4 separate regions of the Homo sapiens genome follow, and all the other regions are linked to region 1. Evidence: fine-mapped expression QTL. A gene starts in region 1. Each other region holds a variant in brackets. All regions are shown on one strand. Distances are between the middles of the regions.

Region 1 (5,200 bases):
AGTGAAGGTGGGAAGTGGAGGCTCACCAGGTCTGCTCACCACCCCTCCCAATCCAGCTCCTACCTCGGCACCTCCCCAACTCCTCTAATTCAGGCCACCTTGGAAAATGCTAGGGGGAAGAAATGGTGATGGGGTGGGGTGTGCAGATCTTAAAGCACCCGGGGGTCTGACCCAAAGCAGAACTTAAACTCCATCAAGCTGCCCTACCAATCCCAAGTCCTGTGGGAACCTGTCAATTACAGCAGACAGTGGGCTGGGCCCTCCTACTGCCCCAAACCTTTAAACTACAACCAGCCAGAGCCCCTCAGTTTTCCCACCACACTCAGGCCTGGGACCCCAGGCCACCAACAAAACCCAGCTCACGTGGATGCTCTGGCTCCTGCCTGTGGCGTCCACCCCAGGTGAGAGGATCTGGCTGAGGAGAGACCTCTGGTTTGAAGGATTAAGAACAGCCCTGCTGCCCTGAAGACCTGTGACACAGCAAGTCCAGATGAAGGCTTCCTGAGTTCCAACAACTCCCAGCTCCACCTCAGCAGGGTGGATTCTCCCTTTCACATGAGCCCCAGTTCTGCCCCACCCAGTCCACCTTTAGGTACCTGCCTCTGGGGGACCCAGAGTTTTCAGGCCCAGTTTCTGAAGACACATGCAGTCCTCAATGAATAGCCACTACCAGGGCCAGTGAGGGGGCCTCCAGGGAACTGGCTGGCTACCCAGACAGCCCAGGAGTGAGGCTGAGAGACCAGGTGGGAGTCAGGAAGGGCATAACCCACATGAGGAAAGTCTGGGGCGCAGGAGGAAGCCCTCAGGCACACACTCTGGCACCTGGGCCAGGCCAGGAGAGAGTAAACAAACTAGACACTCAGAGCTACCAGGCACCAGGTCATCAACTGTTCAAAGTTCAAAGCTCCCAAAGGAAGTGACCGCCAGCCTGTGGCCCCTCCCATGCCCACCCTCCACCCCCACCTACAACCCTTCTCATTCCCCTAATCCCTCAACACAATAGCTGCCCCCAAAGCCATGGTTTTCCTGGAATTGAGGCCACAACCCCCATGTCCTCAACCCAAAATGGACAAGCACACCTCCACCCGAGGCTATATATAACCCGTCATGTCAAATCCAGAAACCAGGAGGATGTTTCCTGGAAAGACTTCATCACAAAAAAACAGAGAGGAAGCTGAGGAGGTGGGAAGCCATGGACAAAGAGCCAGTGAGGCTTGTCAGGAAGCCAGAGACCTCAGGAGAGCAACTTTCAATATCTCCAGATAGAAAGTAGCCCCTGAACTAAAAAGGGTGGGGAACATTAGGCCAGGCCTGTTGCCACAACAACAGGGCACCAACCTGCTCAAGAAAAGGGCTCCAAAGCACAAGGGAAAGGCGGCTGATTCAATGGGCTCTGTACTCACCGTCCTGCTCAGGTGATCTTGCTCTTAATCACCCAGGTGGCCTCCCCTCCCTTCCAGCACACCCCAGTGCATACACACTTCCCAGAGCTCACTTGCCACAGGGGCACTGATGAGGCCTTCTCGGCCACAGACACGCCAGGGGCTCCAAAAGACAAGACGAACCCACACTAACTAGCCCAAGTCATTGGCAGGGTGAAGCAGGGAGGGAATCCAATTCTTTAATTCGGGGTGGCCATCTGAGGGAATGAAAGCCCTAGCCAGGACAGTCCCTCTCAGGAAGCATTCCCCCAGCCCTCCCCACACAAATACAAACTATGAGGCCAGCGCCAAACACATGCCCCATTGGCAAAGTGGTCAGGCAAAATGAATACCCGCTCAAAAACAAACTGGCTGTCTTCCTCCCCATCTCCCCCACCCCCCACCTCTAGCTCATTCTGGCCGCAACCTTTCCAACTAATCAGCAAGACACATGTGCCTTGCAGTAGGGCAACTCCCCCATCTCCACCCCCAAAACAAAGCCCCAATGCCTGGCCTGTCCCTGCGGGCCTTATCGCACCCAGGAACATGACCCACACTCCTGGCCGGGTTTGGGACCAAGGAGCGCACCCCCACTAACAAGGGGCAGGGTGAGGGGGCAGCCACCCCTACCACCTCCCCTTCCCATTGGCGAAACAACTGGCATGACAGGTTAGCAGGGCGGGGCGTCGGGGCGGTCTCTCCAGAGGCCTGGGGCAGCTTGTCCGACCTTCCCACACGCACCCCACCCCTCTGCAGGGAAAGGTGAGGTGAGCATTCAGTCTCAGGGCACAGCCTGCACTCCCTAATCCCCAAAGCCTGCCACCATTCACCCTCTCATCTTCTGTCCCAAGAGGAGGGGGCCCAGGGAAGCGGGGTCTCCATTGTTTTGCCAGCTGTCTAGCAGCTGCTCCTTTGAGAGGAGCCCGCAGTCTGCCCGGCAGTGAAAGAGTGAAGGCCGCTGGGAGGGATAAAAGGGTCGGTAGAGGTGCTCCCCTTCCCCGCTGCCTTCCTCAGCGCCCCGCTCTCTCGCTCGCTCCATCGTGGGGCCTGGACGGGGGCAGGAGAAGTCCCCCCACCCTCGAGGCTGCAGCCCCCACCCCGCAGCTCCGGGCCACCTGGGCGCCTCCAAGCCCCAAATCCCCCCACACTGAAGGCCACCCTGTCCTGCCTCCCTGCGCCCCCCAGGTTGGCTGGAAGGGCCGGTGGTTCCCCCTTCCCCGCCGCTCCCGATCGGCCCCCACCCCCGGGCGTCGAGCTCCACGGCGCCGCCAGGGACGGGAGCCGGGAGTCCGGGCCGCTGCTTCCAGGGGACGGGGGAGGAGGAGGAGGAGCCGGCGGGCCCCGCCGCCCGCCCGCCCTCCCTCCCGGCCGGAGCCCGCCCCGCCGCCCCACCAAGCCGGGCCCGCCACCGAGCGGCCGCCGCCGCCGACCGGCACTCACCGGCCACCGGAGCCCGCCCGGCAGGCAGCAGAAGCGGAGACGCGGCATCCAGCAGCCTCGGCCCGGTCAGGGATGGAGCAGAGCGCAGCGCGGCGCAGCTCAGCGCCGCCCCCAGCGACCGCGCAGGCCGAGCCGAAAGGGAGCTCCCTGCTGGCGGCTGTGGGGATAAACGCCCGGCCTGCCTGGCAGCGCCAGTGCGCGCCGCCAGACGTGGGCCAGGCGGGCCGGGCGCTGCCCTGGCAGCCTCCGTCCGCTGTGGACTCCGAAGCCCCTCTCGCTGTGTCTGAGAGAGGCCCTGCCTGGAGTTTCTGTCTGCACTGGGCACTGGAGGCTGTCCGAAAAGGGTCCGAAAGGGGCTGAGTGGCACTGCCTAGGACAGGCACCAGGGTCATGATGAACGTATAGAAGAGGGGCTGTCCAAGGCAGGCACCGAACTCTGCAGGCTGTGTTCAAGGTAGTGCTGTCTAAAGGAAGCAATTAAGTCTTACTGGCCGCCTCCTCCCAAGGTGGCTCTGCAGAGGCACACACAGGGCCCTGCTGGATGGTGCCCCAGGCTCAGTCCAGACCAGGTACTGCCTGCCATGTCCGAGATGGCACTGCCAGAATGCACTCCCCAAGGTAAAAACAGACTCCCAATAGCTTGGTCTGATACAGCCCTGCCTCAAAATGGAGTGGATCAAGAGGCGTACCAGGGCCCGGGAGCCATGGCTGTAAGTGCCACTCACTCCCTAAAGGAGTTCACCAATGCCAAGATTAACACTTTCAGAAGCTCTTTGGAATGCAGTCTGTCCCTGGGTCCACTGTGTGCTGTAAATATCAAGTGAGCTGCTGTACCCACCAAGAAGACAGTTTATACTTCCTGGGAGAGGCCAAGGGACATCCAGATACCAGGCCTCCAAGATAGGTGCTATGTCTAGAGTTTGGAGAAAGAAAGAAATGGGGACACTTCCCTGGGCAGTGTCCATGCTGGAGTGGGGTGTGCCAGAATGTGGAAGAAACTGAGTGGGGTGGTGCAGGAAGAAGGGTGTAGCAGACAAATGCTGCTACCTCCCTAGACAGCCCAAACAGGAACTTCTCCAGGCAAGGGCAGCCCAACCTGACAGACCAGGGAAGGCTGGAGCAAGGAGGCTCAGAAAGCAGAGAGTTGAGTAAGAGTTAGGGAGTTCCTGAGGAATAGACCCAGGCGGGATACACATTTTGGAATAACATGCAACTCAAATTCAATTTAACAAACTGCCTGCTAAGTGCCAAGTGCAGCCCCAGGCACTTGGGGTGACACAGAAGGAGATCAGACATGGCATATCTCCAGGGAAATCACATGGGGAACAGGTAGACCTGAGCTGTGACAGTAGTAGGGTTCACCATGCTGGCATTACTTGGATGATGAGATAGGTGCTATGATGGGAGGCTTATTTGGCTTGAGGAGTGAGAAGAGCAGCTTCAAAAACATGACATTTGAGGCCAGGCATGGTGGCTTATGCCTGTAATCCCAGCACTTTGGGAGGCTGAGGTGGGCAGATCACTTGAGGCCAGCGTTCAAGACCAGCCTGGCCAACATGGCGAAACCCCATCACTACTACAAATACAAAAAATTAACCAGGCGTGGTAGTGCATGTCTATAATCCCAGCTACTTGGGAGGCTGAGGCAGGAGAATCTCTTGAACCTGGGGAGCAGAGGTTGCAGTGAGCGGAGATTACACCACTGTACTTCAGCCTGGGCGACAGAGCAAGACTCTGTCTCCAAAAAAGAAAAAAAAAAAACCCCAAAAACATGACATTTGAGCGGAACCTTGCAGGCTAAGTAGGACAACGACTATCATTAGTGTTTCCTGAGTACCTATTATATACTAGACACTATCTCTACTCCTCACAATGAACCTATGAGGGAGACATTATTATTATAGATAGGGGTTGAGTGCATGGACTCTGGAGCTGGATTGCCTGGATTCAAAATCTCAGTTCTGTAAAGTACTAGCTGTGTTACTCTGGGTGATTTTTTATAAATCACCTCTCTGTGCTTCACTTTGCTCATCCAAAAAATTGGGATAATAACAGTGACTCCCTCCCTCAAAATTTGTTTTGAAAATTATATAAGCTTAGTCTTTTCAACACATGGGGCTTTTCAACAAACTGGACATCCACATGCAAAAAAAAAAAAAGGGGGGGGTCTAGACACAGACTTTATACCCTTCACAAAAATTAACTCAGAATAGATTATATACCTAAATGTAAAACACAAAACTATAAAACTGTCTCCTAGAGGATAACATAGGAGAAAACCTAGATGACCTTGAGTATCACAATGACTCTTTAGATACAACACCAAAGGCACCATAAAA
Region 2 (5,200 bases), 72 kb before region 1:
GCAATATGGAGGGCGTGAGGGATGAGAAGACCAGTGCCAGGGCATCAGGGAGAGGGACCAGGCAGCCATGGGCAGTGAGGGCAGCAGGAGGAAAGCCCAGGGCAGGCAGGAGGCAGAGCACAGTCCAGGGAGACGATGACAGAGGCTCCTTCCAGAGAGCAAAACCTGCAGGTCTGTGGGGAGTTTCTCCGTGGAGAGAAAAGGGCCAGGAGAAAAAGAGATGCCAGAGGAAAAAGAGAGAGAAGTGAATTCACACTGATGGAATGGGTCTCTGGGGAGACCCAAGGAAATGGACTCCAAGGCACAGGATCAAGGGACTGGATGAGAGGGACCCTCCCCACCAAGACAGAAGGGGTACGGGAAGAAGGAGGCTAGGGAAGAGAGGTTTGCAGGAGGCAGAAGAAGCTGGAGCCTGATGTCCTGAGATCTGAAGGCTGGGCATCTGCTGGGAAGGTGAGCCAGGAAGGTGGGGCGGGGAGGATTTGAGAAGAAAGATGGAGAATGCAATAGCAGACAGGAAGCCTGGAGTCACGGCCAGATAAGGAGGGGACATCTAGAAGACTTGCTGGTCCCCCTGAGGGCCCACCAAAGGCTGAAGACCATGAACCTGTAGGAAGTCAAGTCCACAAAGTTGTATAATTTTCTCCCACCACCCTTGGGAGCCCAAAGCAAGGAGTGCAGACACCCAGAGGCTGGCGCTTCGGTGGGAGTTGGGCAGGCCAGGTGCTGCGGGAGGCTCAGGAGGGCTGAGGGTGAGGGAGGCCGAGTGACTGCAGAGTGAACCATGGAAAAGGAGACAATTCACAGAGAAATGGAGTGTGATCCAGAAAGAGAGGTTCTGATGGAGCCAGAGAGCGGGTGTCCTGAGGGGAAGAGAGGAGTGGGACCAGCAGGCACGAGGCTGTGGTCAGAGAAGGCCATGCTGGGATTTATGATTTTGGAGCTGGGGCATTTCCAGAGCTGATGAGGTACTGGTGTAGCCACAGGTGGGAGGCTGGAATGGAGGCTGAGGGCCTGTGAGAAGGGGGCGTGGGACGGGCATCTATGTCCACATGAGGTTGCCCAGGCCACCAGCAGGCCAAAGGATGGAGGGAAGTTCTTCCGAGCCCCCTCCATGAATTCAGGTCTTTAAGGCAGGGGTGGAGGGGCAGGGGGGCACACACAGAGGCAGGCTGGGCACTCTGTGGGCTTTCTGCCCCATTCTGCAGCATCCTCTCCATTTAGGGAAGCCATCCTAAGGTCTGAGGTGCTTTCAGAATCAGGCTGGATGCCTGAGGCCCGAGCACAGTAAAGGAGGGGTCCTCTGCTCTGGGAGCCCTGTGACTGTCTAAGGGGCTGCCTCTGGGGCTCAAGGTGATAGCCCAGACGGGCAGGGACACCCCTTCCGCAGCCACAAGTTCACCAACCAGGGCCGGCAAATGGCCCGGCAGCCTATGTTCACCTGGCACCACGGAGGTCTCACCATATCCACCTTCCTTCTAGGAGGAATGTTCGCCCAGCCCTGGACAGCTTCCTGCTTCAGGAACCAATCCCTGACATGGGGGCCCAGGTGCCATCGGTGGGGCTCCCAAAGCACTAATAATTCTCATGCACCCTCAGTGCGCCCAGGCCCTGCTCGCTCCTGGATGATTGTCTGGCTCACCAGCAAGCAGACACCCCCAGCTCAGGCCTCCAAGGAGGGGGTGGCTCTTCTCCAGCTCCTATGGTCTGGGCCCCAGGACACAGCTGGGTGCTTCCAAAACTGGGAGCCTGAGCAGGGCCAGATGAGCTGTCTCCAGGGAAGGGAAGGCAGATGAGTCTGGAAAGGGCAGCTGCTTGAGGGGCCTGGGCAGAGGGAGAGCGGTCTGGGGACCTGGACCTACCCGCCTTTCATCCACCACGATGTAGTTACGCCCGTGTTTCTTGGTCAGGTGCGGGGCCAGGACATCAAAGCGGCGGCGGAACTCGGAAAACACCATGTGGTCAGGGTAACCTAGAGAGAGCAGCCCAGAGCCAGGCCTGTCAACGCCACCTGCTCCCAGCACACCCCAGTAGCCACTGTGCCTGGGCAGTCAGTGGAGAGTCACCAAAAGGGAAGAAACTGCAGGGGGTGGGGAGCCTGTGGTTGAAGGCAGGCCTAGAAAGGAGAGGGGGTAGGCAGGGAAGAGGAAGAGAAGGTCAGGAGGACAATCAGGCCTGCTCCACAGGGGGATAGGAAGGCCCAAAAAAGGAACAGCCTCCTTCAGAGAGAAGTAAGCTCCTAGTAGTCAGTGAGGTATGCAAATGGGGGGTTGTGGGGTAGCTGACCAGCTGGGAGGAAGGCTACATCCCAATCCCCAAGATGCTTTCCAGCCCTCCAAGTCTATGCCTCAGTGATAACCCAGACAAAATAATGTCTTATGGTCT[TAA/T]AAAAAAAAAAAAAAAAAAAAAAGACACCAGGCCAGGCGTGGTGGCTCACGCCTGTAATCCTATCACTTTGGGAGGCCAAGGTGGGAGGATCACTTGAGGCCAGGAGTTTAGACAAGCCTGGCCAGCATGGTAAAACTGTCTCTACCAAAAGTACAAAAAAGTAAGCCGGGTATGGTGGTGCATGCCTGTAGTCCCAGCTACTCAGGAGGCCGAGGCAGAAGAATCGCTTGAACTCAGGAGGCAGAGGCTGCAGTGAGCCAAGATCACACCACTGCACTCCAGCCTGGGAGACAGAGCAAGACTGTGTCTCAAAAAAAAAAAAAAAAAAAGGCACCAGAGAGTAGCTGAGAGGAATCGCGCATTGGCTAGGTGCTGGATTCCTGGCCCTGCCTCTTAGGATCATGTGACCTTGGGCCAGTCACTCAACCTTTCTGAGCCTCAGTTTCTTCACCTTTAAACAGCGGCCCTCGCACTTATCTCGAATGGTAGTCATGGAGATTAAATGAGAAACCAGGTAAAAAGCACAGTGTGACTCACTTGGTTGGCATTTAATAAACACTCCTTTTCCCCCTCTGTCCACTAGAGCAGGACATGAGAAAGGCTGCCCTCCTTGCCTCACCCTGACCTTGAGTCCTAGGCCAGGTGACCAAAAAGACTTGTAGATTCTCTTTCCCTGAAGAGTGTCTGGGCTTCAGGTCAGGGGAGGTGTGACCTGACTTTTGGCTTGGAGCAAAGTGGGTCAGAGCAGTGGCTAGCAGGAAGTGACCCCAAGTCACCCTGATCTTACCAGAGCCCAGGGTGGAGGGCCACGAACTCCACTCCCACAAAATCACAGAATTTCAAACCAGAAAGGGATCTTAAGCCAGATCCAACTCATCTTTCAGACACAGAAACGGAGGCCTGGGAGGAGCGACTGTCTTGCTCAAGGTCACAAAGGCTGCTGCTGGGGGCAGAACTGGCTTCCAAACCTGGACTCCTGACAGCTAGCCAAGGGCATGCTCCACAGCAATGACGGGCTAGCTGGCTCTGGGAAACCCTCCAGCTGGGAGGTGAGGCTGATGCATGTGCCTGATAATTGAAACAGGAGGTGGGGGCTGCTGAGGGGCCAAGACAAAGTGAGCTATTGATTGTATCTGAATTGCAATTAAATTGATGGGCCAGGATAGCAGGTCTGGACGCCTGGCATCTTAATTAATCATCAGTGCTATAGTGCGGTGGCTGGGGGCCGGGTGAGGGAAGGGGGGCCTGCCGCTGCTGGCCTCATCGATCTGCTTGTTTGAGTAACGCACATTGATTTTGGTTCAGAGCGGTAACAATCTGGTTTTGAAATAATAAACACCAACTCCATATCAAGACGTGGGGACAGATCGATGATTTATTTAGAGCAGGGCAGGGAGCCTGTTTCCTGGCTTGGGCTGCTAAGGAAGTTTTAGTGCCCATGGGAATGCCTGAAGGGGACCTGGCTGTGGGTGGGTGGGACCCTACCTGCTCTTCTAGTGAAGGAGAAAAACAGCAGAAACCCAGCAACTCATAACTTCTCAGGCAAAAAACAAAAAAAAAACAAAAAAAACCCACCCTACTTGAGAGACATGAGACATGACTCTACAGCCAGCCTGCCTGGTCAAATCCCACTCTGCCACTCAGGAGCTGTGTGACCTTGGGCAAGCTACTTAACCTCTCTGAGCCTCAGTCTCCTCATCTGGAATGATACCAGTGTGCTATCCCGGCCCCCAGCCACCGATAACAGCTTCTAAGGACTCTAAGTAACCACTAATACTATCATCCTGTCTGTCGCCTCCTTTAGATGGGTCCATAAAAAAGGGTCTGTCTGACCTTTCTTGGGAATTTTAAGTACTTCAGAAAGATTTAGCACCTCATTTCTCACTGGGCAGATGGCTCCGAAAGGGCACTGGGTTTGCTGCTGTGGGCAAAGCTGAACTGTCCAAACTAGGGACGTGGGAAGAAAGGGAGCTGTGGACAAATGACAAGGTGCAGGGTGGAGCTAGGAAGGGAGGGGGACAAAGAGAACTGAATATGGAAGGGAGAGGAGGAGGCGGGGACTCTGCAGGATGGAAGGAAATGGACAAAGGGGCTGTGGGCTGGGAGAGATGAGGAGAGACCAGAGCAGAAAGGATCGTGAGGAAAGACAGGAGCAGCCCCACTGCAGCCCACGGGTCGCAGGTGGGAGGTGGGGCCGGGCAGGGCCAGCTCTGGAAAAGAGAGCCCAGAGTGGAGAGGAAAGGAGGCCCCACCTTGGCGGTACATGCGCATGGCATCGAGCAGGCGGGAGCCGCGGAGCTGGGTGCGGAGCAGGGGCACGTCGAGCTGCAGGAGCCCAGCCTCGCAGTGGTCTCCCGAGGGCAGGTCCAGCTCACTGCTGCTGCTGACTCGGCGGGAGGAGGCGGAACGGGGCTCCCCAGCCCAGCCCTCAGCTACAGGCAGGAAGCAGTGCACAAAATGCAGCTTTGACTTCTTGATGGTGTCGATGAGGGCGTCCTGCCGAGGGGAAGAGACTGCCCTCAGTGGGCTCTGATGGCCTGTGCTCAGAAGAGCAGGGACTGGTGCCAGCGTCTCCACTGCTCACAGGGTAGCAGCGGCCCCAGCACCAGCCAGGACATGCTAAACCTGGACAACTCTGCCCTCGCCGGGCCTCGGTGGCCACTCACAGGTGGCAGCACTGAAAAGAAGACCCCCACCTGCAGCCATTGAGTCACAGTGGGACGCTGAGTGGGCACCAGATGGCCTCAGTGTGCTCGGAGTCCCCAGGCCTGCCTACCAGGGGTAAGGAAGGGTCCCCAGGCCTGCCTGCTGG
Region 3 (5,200 bases), 47 kb before region 1:
TCCTAACTACACATCTTTGGACTTGGCTATTCAGAAACCTAAGGCTATTCTTGCCTTAGGAGAGTCCAGGTTTATTCAGGGTCTCTATCCCAATGCGCTGGGGCTGGAGGCAGTGAGTAGCTGGAGCCTGCCTCCAGGTCACCTGCACCAAGCAGCTGACAGGGTCTTGGAAGAGACAGCAGCGACTACAGTGAAGTCCCTCCATGCCTTTGCCTTGTGCCACCCAGAGCAGGCTGAAGAATCCCAACAGCTGAGCTCTCATTCGACGCTCCCTGACCTAAGAGTTTGCCCACCCAAGCCTCTCCAGGCCCAAAGGGTTCAGGAAACCAGAACCAAAGGGAGGCAACTTAAGGGGATTGGGGAGGAGGTTAGGGGAGGTCCCCAAAGCACCTTGGCCATCTCCTTCACACACCTGAAGCTGGCATCACATACACCGTACTTTCTTCCCCTTTACTAGAATTCTCTTCAGCTGAGCCACACAGGAAGGGGCCCCCTGCAATCCCCACCTACTCCATGGAGCTGTCTCACAGGCTAGTCCAGGGCTAGTGGGTGCAGGGGCAAACACACACACGCACACACACATGCACGCATGCACACACACATGCCCGCACACACACACGCATGCCTCGGAGAACTCAAGGATGCACTTACAGCCCCTTCCTCCTTGCCAGGAGAGCCAGGCTTTGGCAGAGTTTTGTCCTCCTCTTTAACCTGAGGGAGCAGATGAAGAAGTCACTGGCAGGTCAAGGCTGGGAGACCCAGCACTAAAAGCACAGGGAGAGAACATTCAAGGGGCCTCCCTCACCCTGAGGTGGAGCTCCTGAGTCTTTAGGAATACCGGGGCTAGGGGACCTGGGCAAGAGCTATCCTATCCTAGAATCAGAACTGTTCAGTGATGACTTCAAGAATGAAGAGTCTGTGGGGGAAAAAGCCAAGTACCCTTGCCCTCAGCAACCAGCCACTTTGCCCACTTTGGGGGCTGTCTAAAGAGGTCCACCCACAGTGCCATCGTGGCTTTGGTTACGTGGCAGATGGGAAGATCCAGCTAATTTAACTCATCCAAACTACAAGAGTCATCCCTAGCTCAGGCAAGAAGTGGTTTGAACAAAAAGCCCCAGATCTAGTGACTGAGGAGGTAAAAGTAACCCAGTGTGGGTACCTGTGGGCCAGCAGCTTTTAGAGTAGAGTGAAGGTTGGCCCCTACTGGGCTGGCTCTGGCTTACTTCTTGATCCTGCACAACTCCCCCAGCTCAGCTGAGATCTTGCTGGAGGCAGGGAGTGGGGCAGAGGCGGAGATTCAGGAGGCCAGATATTTTCTCAACCTCAGACCCACAAAACTGCCAACCACGCAGCCGAGGGAGGGAACCCTGAAGTTAGGGGCGGGGTATGGAGGAAGGAAAGATGCCTAAGCTCTGGACACTGGGGCCAGGGGTTTGTGCTGGAGCCCAGGAGCTGGCTGGCCTGAGTCAGAGGGGAGGAGTGGAGTCGTGGAAACAGCAGATACCATCACACATCTGGAAAAAGGGCAGATGATGTGGAAGCTCTGAAGGTTCTTTCAGTTCAGAAACTGGCTCACAACAGATTCAGAGAGGCCAGGCCTCAAGTTTTAAAAAGTCTTCTCCTTTCCCCTCACCAGTATCTCTCCCTCCAAAAGCTCAGGCAGTCCTATGGATTTAATTTCTCCTCTTTCCCGCGTCACCTAGGACTACAGGAAAAAGACAGCCCTGTTACCAACCCTACCTCCTCCTCAGCGTGCCTCTCCTTCCCAGCACAATGTGGGTAGGAGCATGGCAAGAAGTCCTTGATTCCTAAGGGAAAAAATCTTTAGAAACATCCAGAATCATTTACATGATCCACTTGGGGGGACTCTCCAATTTTAACCAGGGTCTGTGGCTAATTTTGAGCTCAAATTAGCAGTGCCAGGGGCACTGGCTGGCGTGATGGCTGCTGCAGTTTTAAAGCTGCATCTTGTCCACAGAGCTATCTGCAACGGGCTCAATCTTCATAGTTAGCTCACAATGCCAAGGACGAGGGGAAATGGCAAATATTCACCAGAGTGGAGCCTACTTCTTTAAGAATTGGAATCGGAGCAGAGAAAGGGAAGGGAGGGACTGGTGGACAGAGGGAGGAAGAGTGGCAGGGTCTAGGTCTGTGCCTGCTGCCCCCCACCAAGCCATCACTCTCCCCCTTGCTGCCCCAGGGATCACACCATGCAGTAGTTCTGGGGCACACAGGTTAGTGGGAGGACAAGTGTTCGCAAACCACACAGACACACTCATTACTGCACGCAGTGCTGTTAACTTGGGTGCCGGGGTGGCCCAGATTCCAAGTCCACTCTGTGTTCTTCACCAGCTCCAAATCTGTCCTCCCTCCAGTGGCTCAAGTTTGGGACCCCAAATGTCTGGCCCAAGGTGTGGCATTGGGGAAAACACTGGGTGCCCCCCAAGTGTCTGAAACACTGGGCCCAGCTCTGAGCTCAGCTCTGGATTTAGCATCAGGCTGACTCACTCCTCCCTCCCCCATCAGAAGGGCTCTGGCTGTTGTAGGTCACTGCCCAGCTGGGGACTATGCACACGCATAAAGGCACACACACAGGCAGTCCCAAGTCTGTGGCCTGAATCACCCTCTGGACCCAGGTGGCCAACTGGCCTGACTCCCCACCCTTGGCCCCTTGTCCTCCTAACCCACTGCAGCCCCCAGGATCAGGGAGACCCAGTTCCAGCGGTCCCTCCACAGCAGCCCACGTTCCAGGGGTGAGTCAAGGCAGCAGGGTGGTGGGAAGGGTGTGGAGGGGTTAACCCAGAGGGACACCAGCAGGACAAAAGGCAGCTCACCTTACCAGAGGTGGGGCTTAGGGGAGAAGCATGACTCAGTGCAGGAGCCCATCCAGCCAGAATAGGGAGTTCACCAGCCCCCGTCATTCTCCCTGCCACCCCCAATTATACACACATGCCCCAATCCATCTCTAGCTTCCAAAGCTCCCTCTCCCACAAGCCAGTCTCCTGCCTGCAGATACAACATGCCAAGCACACAGGAAAAACATAAAGATTTTAAAATCCAACTTTCCTTTTGCTCCCAGAAGGCGAACCTTGATGAAAAGGCCATGGCGCT[G/C]AAGGTAACCTGTGCCCTGGGTCAGAGAAGAAATGGGGGGCAGGGTCTCTCAGTGTCTCTGAGTCTTCCCAAAGGCCAGAACCTGCCAGGATAAACACTGTGGGCAACAAGGGGAAAGGAGGGATGGAGTGGAGGAGGAAGGATTACAAAACTCAAGAGGGCATTGGAGTAAGGAATAAAATATTAAAGGAAAATGAAGGAAAGTAGGCACAGAACATAGCACTCCCTACCCTTGGAAGCTGTGTGCATTGTTTTTATTTTTTTATTTTTATTTTTTGAGATGCAGTCTCACTCTGTAGGCCAGGCTGAAGTGCAATGGTGCCATCTCGGCTCACTGCAGCCTCTGCCTCCCGGGTTCAAGTGATTCTCCTGCCTCAGCCTCCCCGGCACCAACACGCCCAGCTAATTTTTGTACTTTTTAGTAGAGATGGGGGTTCACCATGTTGGCCAGACTAGTCTCGAACTCTTGACCTCAGGTGATCCACCCGCCTTGGCGTCCTAAAGTGCTGGGATTACAGGTGTGAGCTGACGTGCCCGGCCAGAAGCTGTGTGCTTTGAATAAGCCACTTCGCCTCTTTGGGCCTCTCTGTAGAATTAGGGGCTAGTCTAGACAATGGCTCAAGGCCTCTCCATGTCTGGCACCTTAGGAGTCTACGTGGGGAGAGGCACTCAAACTCTATTTATTTATTTATTTATTGAGTCGGAGTTTCACTCTTGTTGCCCAGGCTGGAGTACAATGGCGTGATCTCGGCTCACTGCAACCTCCACCTCCCGGACTCAAGCGATTCTCCTGCCTCAGCCTCCCAGGTAGCTGGGATTACAGGCGCCCGCTACCACGCCCGGCTAATTTCTGTATTTTTAGTAGAGACGGGGTTTCTCCATGTTAGTCAGGCTGGTCTCGAACTCCTGACCTCAGGTGACCCACCTGCCTCAGCTTCCCAAAGCGCTGGGATTACAGGTGTGAGCCACCACGCCCAGCCAACACTCAAACCCTTAATACAGTAAACCAAAGTTGCAGGCCTGTGACCTAGGAGAGGAATTGAGGAATCTGCCTCAGGACCCCAGCGACTTTGCCTTCCAGCTGTAACACACAATTACGTGGGGCAAGAGGCCCGGAGAACTGCAAAACTGTCCATCTATGGATTAGAAACCAGAGCTGGGCCGCTTGAAAAATCAAGTCAGAATCTGCCTCAGTCCAGGGAGAGGCTGCATCCAAAGAATCAGGGCACTTCAGTGGAGTTTAATAACTGGTTCTTTTTTTTTTTTTAATTGAGACAGAGTCTCATCTCACTCTATCACCCAGGCTGGAGTACAGTGGTGCAATCTTGCCTCACTGCAACCTCCGCCTCCCGGGTTCACGCCATTCTCCTGCCTCAGCCTCCCGAGTAGCTGGGACTACAGGTGTCCACCACCATGCCCAGCTAATTTTTTGTATTTTTTTAGTAGAGGCAGGGTTTCACCGTGTGAGCCAGGATGGTCTTCATCTCCTGACCTCGTGATCCACCCGCCTTGGCCTCCCAAAGTGCTGGGATTACAGAGGTGAGCCACCGCGCCCGGCCAAGAACTGGTTCATTCTTAAAACTGCTTATCATGAATAATAGTTAAAAATTAGGAAATGTTTTGTTTTCAATTAATTATTTCTATTTTGCTTTGTTGACTTCTGTTTTATTATTCAGTTAATGTGCTAGAGACTTTAAGTTTGTCTGTTGGTGTAATTTTAACTCGTTTGATCTTTGATCTCTTGTTCAAGTTTTCCTACTTGTCTATAGAGGTCCCATCTGGCCCAGGCTGTGAGGACACCGGGCCATTTCCACCCAGGCCTGTTCCTCTGCATCAGCTGTTCCTATGAGCTTCACTCTGAACACAGATGTGGGGCTCTCCCCAGAGGAAATTCTCTCTGTGGCTTTTATGCAGAATTGCCTAGACAGTTTTCCTCTCTCCCTTATCACTGAATTTGTTTAGGATCAAGAGCAAGTTATCCTGGAACTGGATTGTTTATAACCCAAAGGATAAATGCTTGAGGGGGTAGAGACCCCATTGTCCATTGCCCAAGCACATGCTTGTTTCTCAATGCATGCCCATATCAAAA
Region 4 (5,200 bases), 89 kb before region 1:
ACTCAAGGAGAACTTAAAAATAAGGTGAGAGGGATGTAAACCCAGGAGATAATCCTTTCTGCCTCTCTCTTGCTATCTGCTCTGCCAGAGATGGAAGGGGCTGGCCAATACTGGCTTTGGGAGACCGAAAGAAAAAGGATTGGTCCAGCATGGTGGCTCATGCCTGTAATCCCAACACTTTGGGAAGCTGAGGCAGGCGGATTGCTTGAGCCCAGAAGTTCAAGACCAGTCTGAGCAACAAGGCAAAACCCTGTCTCTGCAAAAAATACAAAAATTAGCCAGGCATGGTGGCACATGCCTGTGGTCCCAGCTACACAGGAGGCTGAGGCAGGAGGATGGGAGGATTGCTTGAGCCCAGGAGGTCAAGGCTACAGTGAGCCATGATTGCGTCACTGCACTACAGCCTGGGCAACAGAGCGAGACCCTATCTCAAAAAAAAAAAAAAAGGGGAAGAAGAGAGAATGAACCTTATAATAAAGGGAGAGGAGAATGGGATGGGAAGAGGGTAAGAAAGAGAAATAAGATTGGAGAGAGGAAAAAATATAAAATATTTCATGCCTGTAATCCCAGCACTTTGGGAGGCCGAGGCGGGCAGATCATGAGGTCAGGAGATCAAGACCATCCTGGCCAACATGGTGAAACCCCCTCTCTACTAAAATACAATTTAAAAAAAGCACGTGCCTGTAGTCCCATCTACTCGGGAGGCTGAGGCAGGGGAATCGCTTGAACCCGGGAGGTGGAGGTTGCAGTGAGCCGAGATCGTACCACTGCACTCAAGCCTGGCGACAGAGTGAGACTCTGTCTCAAAAAAAAAAAAAAAAAAAAAAAAAAATGAAGGGAGAAGAAAGAATAGGATCATAATCAAGAAAAAGGGAGAGAGAAAAAAAAAAGCAGAGACAGGAGGGCAGAAGAAGTGAGGAAGAAAGGGAATGAAGCAGGGAAGGGGAGAGGAGCAGAGCGAGGGCAGATGAGAGAACAGATTCCAGCCTGCGCAGAAGTGGCACCATCCGCTGCATATTTATGACCCTGCCAGAGAACCGGTTGAGGGGAACAGGCGGGGGGAGCTCGTGGTGGAGGAAAATATGAAGACGAAGAGCTAAGCTGCTCTGGTCCCTTGGCAGAAAGCAAGCACGGAAACAGAATGTAAAGCAGGCGGGCTCCACGGTAGCCAGAGAGCAGGCCAGGCAGGGCGGGAGAGAAGCACCTGCCCGTCAGCTGGCCTGGCAGTGAGGCACAGGCCTCTGAGGACTGTCCGGGGGCCTGTCCAGCCCTGCTGAGCATGCGCGGCTCCAGCGCTGGGGCAGCTCTGCCCTGTTTGGTGTGGCCCGGGAGAAGTGTGAACCCACCTCCAGCCGTTTCACTTGCGTCCTTTCAAACTCCAGGCGTGTCTCCAGCTCCCGTATCTTAGCTTCCTGCCTGCTCACCAGGGACTTGTCCACCATGGACTGCTCCAGGAACTCCACCTGGCTCTGGAGGGCTTGTAGCTAGAGGTGGGGGACAGGAAGAGAAGAAAGAACTGAGCCCAGAAAGGGAGGAGACTGCGTCTGGGGCAGGCAATATCACCACAGTGACCAGAAGGCAAGGGGAGGGAGGGATGCACCTGGGAGGAAAGAGAATGGAGCCCTGGGCCAGAGGCCTCCCCCATCTGCCCCAGTGCTTGGCACAGAGATTGCCCTTCAGAGAGAAAGGAGAAAGCTAAGGATCGGAGAGGGAATACAGATGGGAAATGAGGCAGGGGAAGCCCAAATGTCTGTTATGGTGACATGGCTCCAAGCCTAGCTCTTGCTCCTCATTTACGCTGCTCTGTGGATTACTGATGGCAGAGAAAAGCGCCTTCTAAACTGTGAACTTGGGGGTTCCTCCCACACCTAGTGACCCTGGCACTCTCTCTCTCCTGAGGGAGCCCCTGGTCCTCACCTTCTCCTGCAGCTCCTGCTTCTCTTTGTTGGCTTCTTCTAGCTGAGCTTGGAGATCATTTATCTGAGCCAGGTCCCGGGAAGCCTGGGAAAGGAATGAGAGCATCAGAAGCAGGATCCCCCATAAGCATTCAACCAGCCCAGCCCAGCTGGAACACCAGGGGACCGAGGTTCCCACTCCATCACCTCCCAAAACAAGCGGTTGTGCGGGGGACCCATGAGGAGGACCACAAGGATGGTGACGGTGCAGAGTGTGACGGGCACTCCTGGCAGGGGTACCTGAGCCACGGCAGCCTTGTGCTTCTTCATCAATTCGTTCATGTCTTCCTGATCTTCCTCCAGCCGGTTCTGGATCTCATTCTTCTCACGCTGAAGGCGGCTCAGCTGCTCCTCCAGCTGGAGAGAGGCAAAGACAGATCAGAGGGCCTCAGGCCCAGTGTGCCTGTGGGCTCCAGCTGCCTCCAATGGCAGGGGCATTGTAGAGAAGATGATAATGGGCTGAGCCTGCCTGCTGGGGTGGGTCCCAGGACTAGTGATGCTCAAGGAGCTGCCTGTCCCGCTCTGGACCAGGGAGATGAGGGAAAGGGCTGTGTGCAGTACAGGCAGACCCTG[G/C]GCCTCTGAGCTGAATGACAGCTGCTTCCTGGCAGCTCCTTTGAGGCTAATGAGAAGGCAGAAAAGGTCTGCCCAGAACAAATGACCCATCATCCTGGCACTATCAGTCCAGGCCCTGGCCTGCGTGCACTCTGCCCCCTTCAGGCCCCAGGGAAGGACCCCTCAAGTCTGCGAAGGTCTCCTGGCTTAGACTCTCATTTTCCCTGGGACTGCCCACTCCCTGGGCATCCAGCCCCGACAGCCAGTCCCCTCCTTGGGGGAGGGGAAGAGAGATCCAACAGCAGCTTCAGGAAATGAATGAATCTATTAGCCTGTAATTCCAAACCAAAATGACTGTGTTGGCTCCTTCTCTGCCCCATCCATCTTGTTACTGGGCTGTGGGGAGCTGGGGAAGCCTCCGCCAAGAAATTTATTAACTCAGATTTAAATAAAATGGTAATTTTATAACAACCTTTTTTAACACAATTAAGGAATTTGAATTACTCACCTGAGAACTGCTGAGGAGCACAAATGTCATGGGGATAAATCAAGCCCGTGAGATTGGCATCTCTCAGCAGCTAGGTGACTAGCTCAGGGGCCATGAAGCCACCAGCCCAGCCCAGCCTCCTCCCCTGCCCCATTCCCTGCCCAAGGGGCCTGCCCACTGGGGTGGGTCCCAGGACCAGTGATGCTCAAGGAGCTGCCTGTACTGGCCGCATCCCAGTAATGAATTCTCTGCCGATGGATGGGCCGTGGGAGAGGTGGGAAATTAAAAGGGAGGCATTAAATAAGAGCTCTAATTAGCTGCCGCTTGGGCTTGTCAGTGGGCTGGGCAGGGGGAAGGGGAAGGAAGCCAAGCCATCCTGTCCTCTTATCTGTGCTTCTGCTAATCTCTAGGCACCTGTTTACATCCCTCAGCCACATTAGCTGCCTTTATTTATGGTGTTGGGGCCTGCGGCCAAGCTCCCGTAGGCAGGTGGTTAAACAGGGAGATGGGCCCTTGCTGGCTCCCTCTTCTGCCCGCTCCTCCCCGAGGCCTCTGCTCAGTGTGGAGAGACGCAGAGGAGGGGAGGCCCGCTCTTCCTGCAGCAAGTCCTGGCGTGAAAGGACCTGTCACAAGTCCTGACGTGGAGGGACCTGTCTAGGGTGAAGGGAGCCACAGAGGCAGCTCTATTCTGCCTCAGCCCCCCGAGCTCTGCCCCGGGCACCTTGGCCCCTCACCGCTGTCTTGGCTTTGGCGATGTCATCAATCTGCAGGTGCAGGTCTTCGATCTCCACCTCCATTGCTTTCCGTGCTTTCACGGCTGCCGCACAGGTGAACTCTGACTCCTCCAGCTGGACACAGACCACCCCCGCCCCAGGGAGAGATGTCAGCCATTCCTTGGGGGCAGGAGGGCTGTACAGGAAAGAGGGAGCTCGGATGCCCTCCTTCTCCTCCTCCATTCACTTCAGACCCCAGGGCCATGGCTGTGTGGTGGTGCACGCGTGGGGATCTCCTCCCGTGACATGGCTGGTGGGCACCAGGCCCCATCCACACCATCCCAGGCTGGGCGGTGAGACAGTAAGGCACACGCAGAGCCTGGGGAGTCTAGCTGCTACACGTGGCTCTCCCCTCTTTCCTGTCACTTTCCTTCCCAAGGACTCAAGAACCACTGAGAGGAGCGAGAGAGAGAAAGAGAATGGAAAGGTAAGCTCTGTTGTGCCTGGATCAGCCGTGTGCTCTCTGTGGATACCTGGTTCTTGAGCTGGGCAATCTCTCGCTTGCTGGGAGCACTGTTCTTCAGGTGGTCCAGCATGAGCTGGGCATCTGCCAGCAGGGCCTTGGTGCGCTTCAGGTCCTTCCGCAGCCGCTTCTCTGACTCAAAGTCCCGCCGGTTCACCTGGGTGGGCACCAGCAGTTGGGGTTCTGGGCTCTGCACAGGGCTTCCTCCTATCTTCCCCAAGCTCCCTCCTCACCACGTCCTCATTATCAGTGTCCCCATAAGGATGCTGGAAGAGCCAGGGTCATGCCAACCAGCGATAAAGGGCTGGGTGTGCCAATGTATGGTGATGCCCCCATCCCACAAGGGATGACGATGGGCTCTTTGCAGCACCCCCACCCCCGACAGCTCTGTTCGTGGCTCCCCATCCCTAGGATCCCCACTCCTCAGGCCGCATGGGCAGGGAGCCGGCCAGGCTTGGTGGGTGGAGCATCCCCTGACCTGGTCGCTGAGGGTGGCGAGCTTGCCCTCCAGCTCCCGCTTCTCTCGCAGAACCTTCTGCTTGTCCTCATACTCTTCCTCTAGCTGCACCTCCATCTGTTTTAACTGGAGTACCATGGGGACAGAGACCCGTCCGTCCCTTTAGTGCCTGGTGCGAAGCAGGCCCCTTCCATTCTGGGTTCCCCACTCCAGGAAAACAGTGGGGCAGGCCTGAGCACAATGATGTTGGTGGAGGGGTCAGAACCTAAATTCCAGGTTTCTAGGGTTTCAAAGCAGCCTGGGAGGGTGAGGAGGGATGGCAGGCCACATGCGGTGGCTAGCCAAGACAGAGTAGGAGAGACCTTGCCGCATGGTGGAGACCTGCCCGGCCAGGCTGGCTGACTGCAGGCAGCACCAGTGCAGCGCAGCACAGCAGGGGCACAGGGGGCTGCCCCTGGCACAGAAAGCAGGGAGCGATAGTTCCTCAGGGGCCCAAGCTTCTCTACAGACTCT

Alleles and levels. Positions count from the first base shown, and alleles are read on the strand shown. Sizes are in standard deviations (SD) of each study's normalised expression. Not every link is listed here.
With allele T in place of TAA in region 2, the expression in Th17 cells of the gene that starts at base 2,947 in region 1 is higher (large effect, 1.4 SD a copy in Schmiedel 2018).

Evidence for each region. PIP is the estimated chance that this variant, and not a neighbour inherited with it, causes the effect. A credible set is the group of variants that fine-mapping cannot tell apart.
Region 2: its variant is the best candidate, but not a certain one, in a credible set for the expression of MYO18A in Th17 cells (Schmiedel 2018, PIP 0.61).
Region 3: its variant is the best candidate, but not a certain one, in a credible set for the expression of MYO18A in whole blood (TOPMed, PIP 0.87).
Region 4: its variant is the best candidate, but not a certain one, in a credible set for the expression of MYO18A in whole blood (TOPMed, PIP 0.70).

Annotation. Positions count from the first base shown.
Region 1 is chr17:29,177,452-29,182,651 of GRCh38, forward strand. MYO18A (myosin XVIIIA) reads right to left here and starts at 2,947. Exons shown (of 42, transcript NM_078471.4): 1 at 2,862-2,947. RefSeq lists silencers at 2,621-2,670, 2,791-2,840, 2,806-3,026.
Region 2 is chr17:29,105,218-29,110,417 of GRCh38, forward strand. MYO18A (myosin XVIIIA) reads right to left here. Exons shown (of 42, transcript NM_078471.4): 19 at 4,641-4,884; 20 at 1,863-1,972. Among named protein-coding and RNA genes, the nearest start is that of PIPOX, 65 kb to the left of the region's middle. RefSeq lists an enhancer at 3,362-3,944. The variant TAA/T (reference allele first, on the strand shown) is at 2,386.
Region 3 is chr17:29,130,732-29,135,931 of GRCh38, forward strand. All of the region lies in intron 2 of MYO18A (myosin XVIIIA), which reads right to left. Among named protein-coding and RNA genes, the nearest start is that of MYO18A, 47 kb to the right of the region's middle. RefSeq lists an enhancer at 2,360-2,654. The variant G/C (reference allele first, on the strand shown) is at 3,112.
Region 4 is chr17:29,088,615-29,093,814 of GRCh38, forward strand. MYO18A (myosin XVIIIA) reads right to left here. Exons shown (of 42, transcript NM_078471.4): 32 at 4,709-4,813; 33 at 4,241-4,387; 34 at 3,729-3,842; 35 at 2,196-2,312; 36 at 1,918-2,001; 37 at 1,347-1,484. Among named protein-coding and RNA genes, the nearest start is that of PIPOX, 48 kb to the left of the region's middle. The variant G/C (reference allele first, on the strand shown) is at 2,529.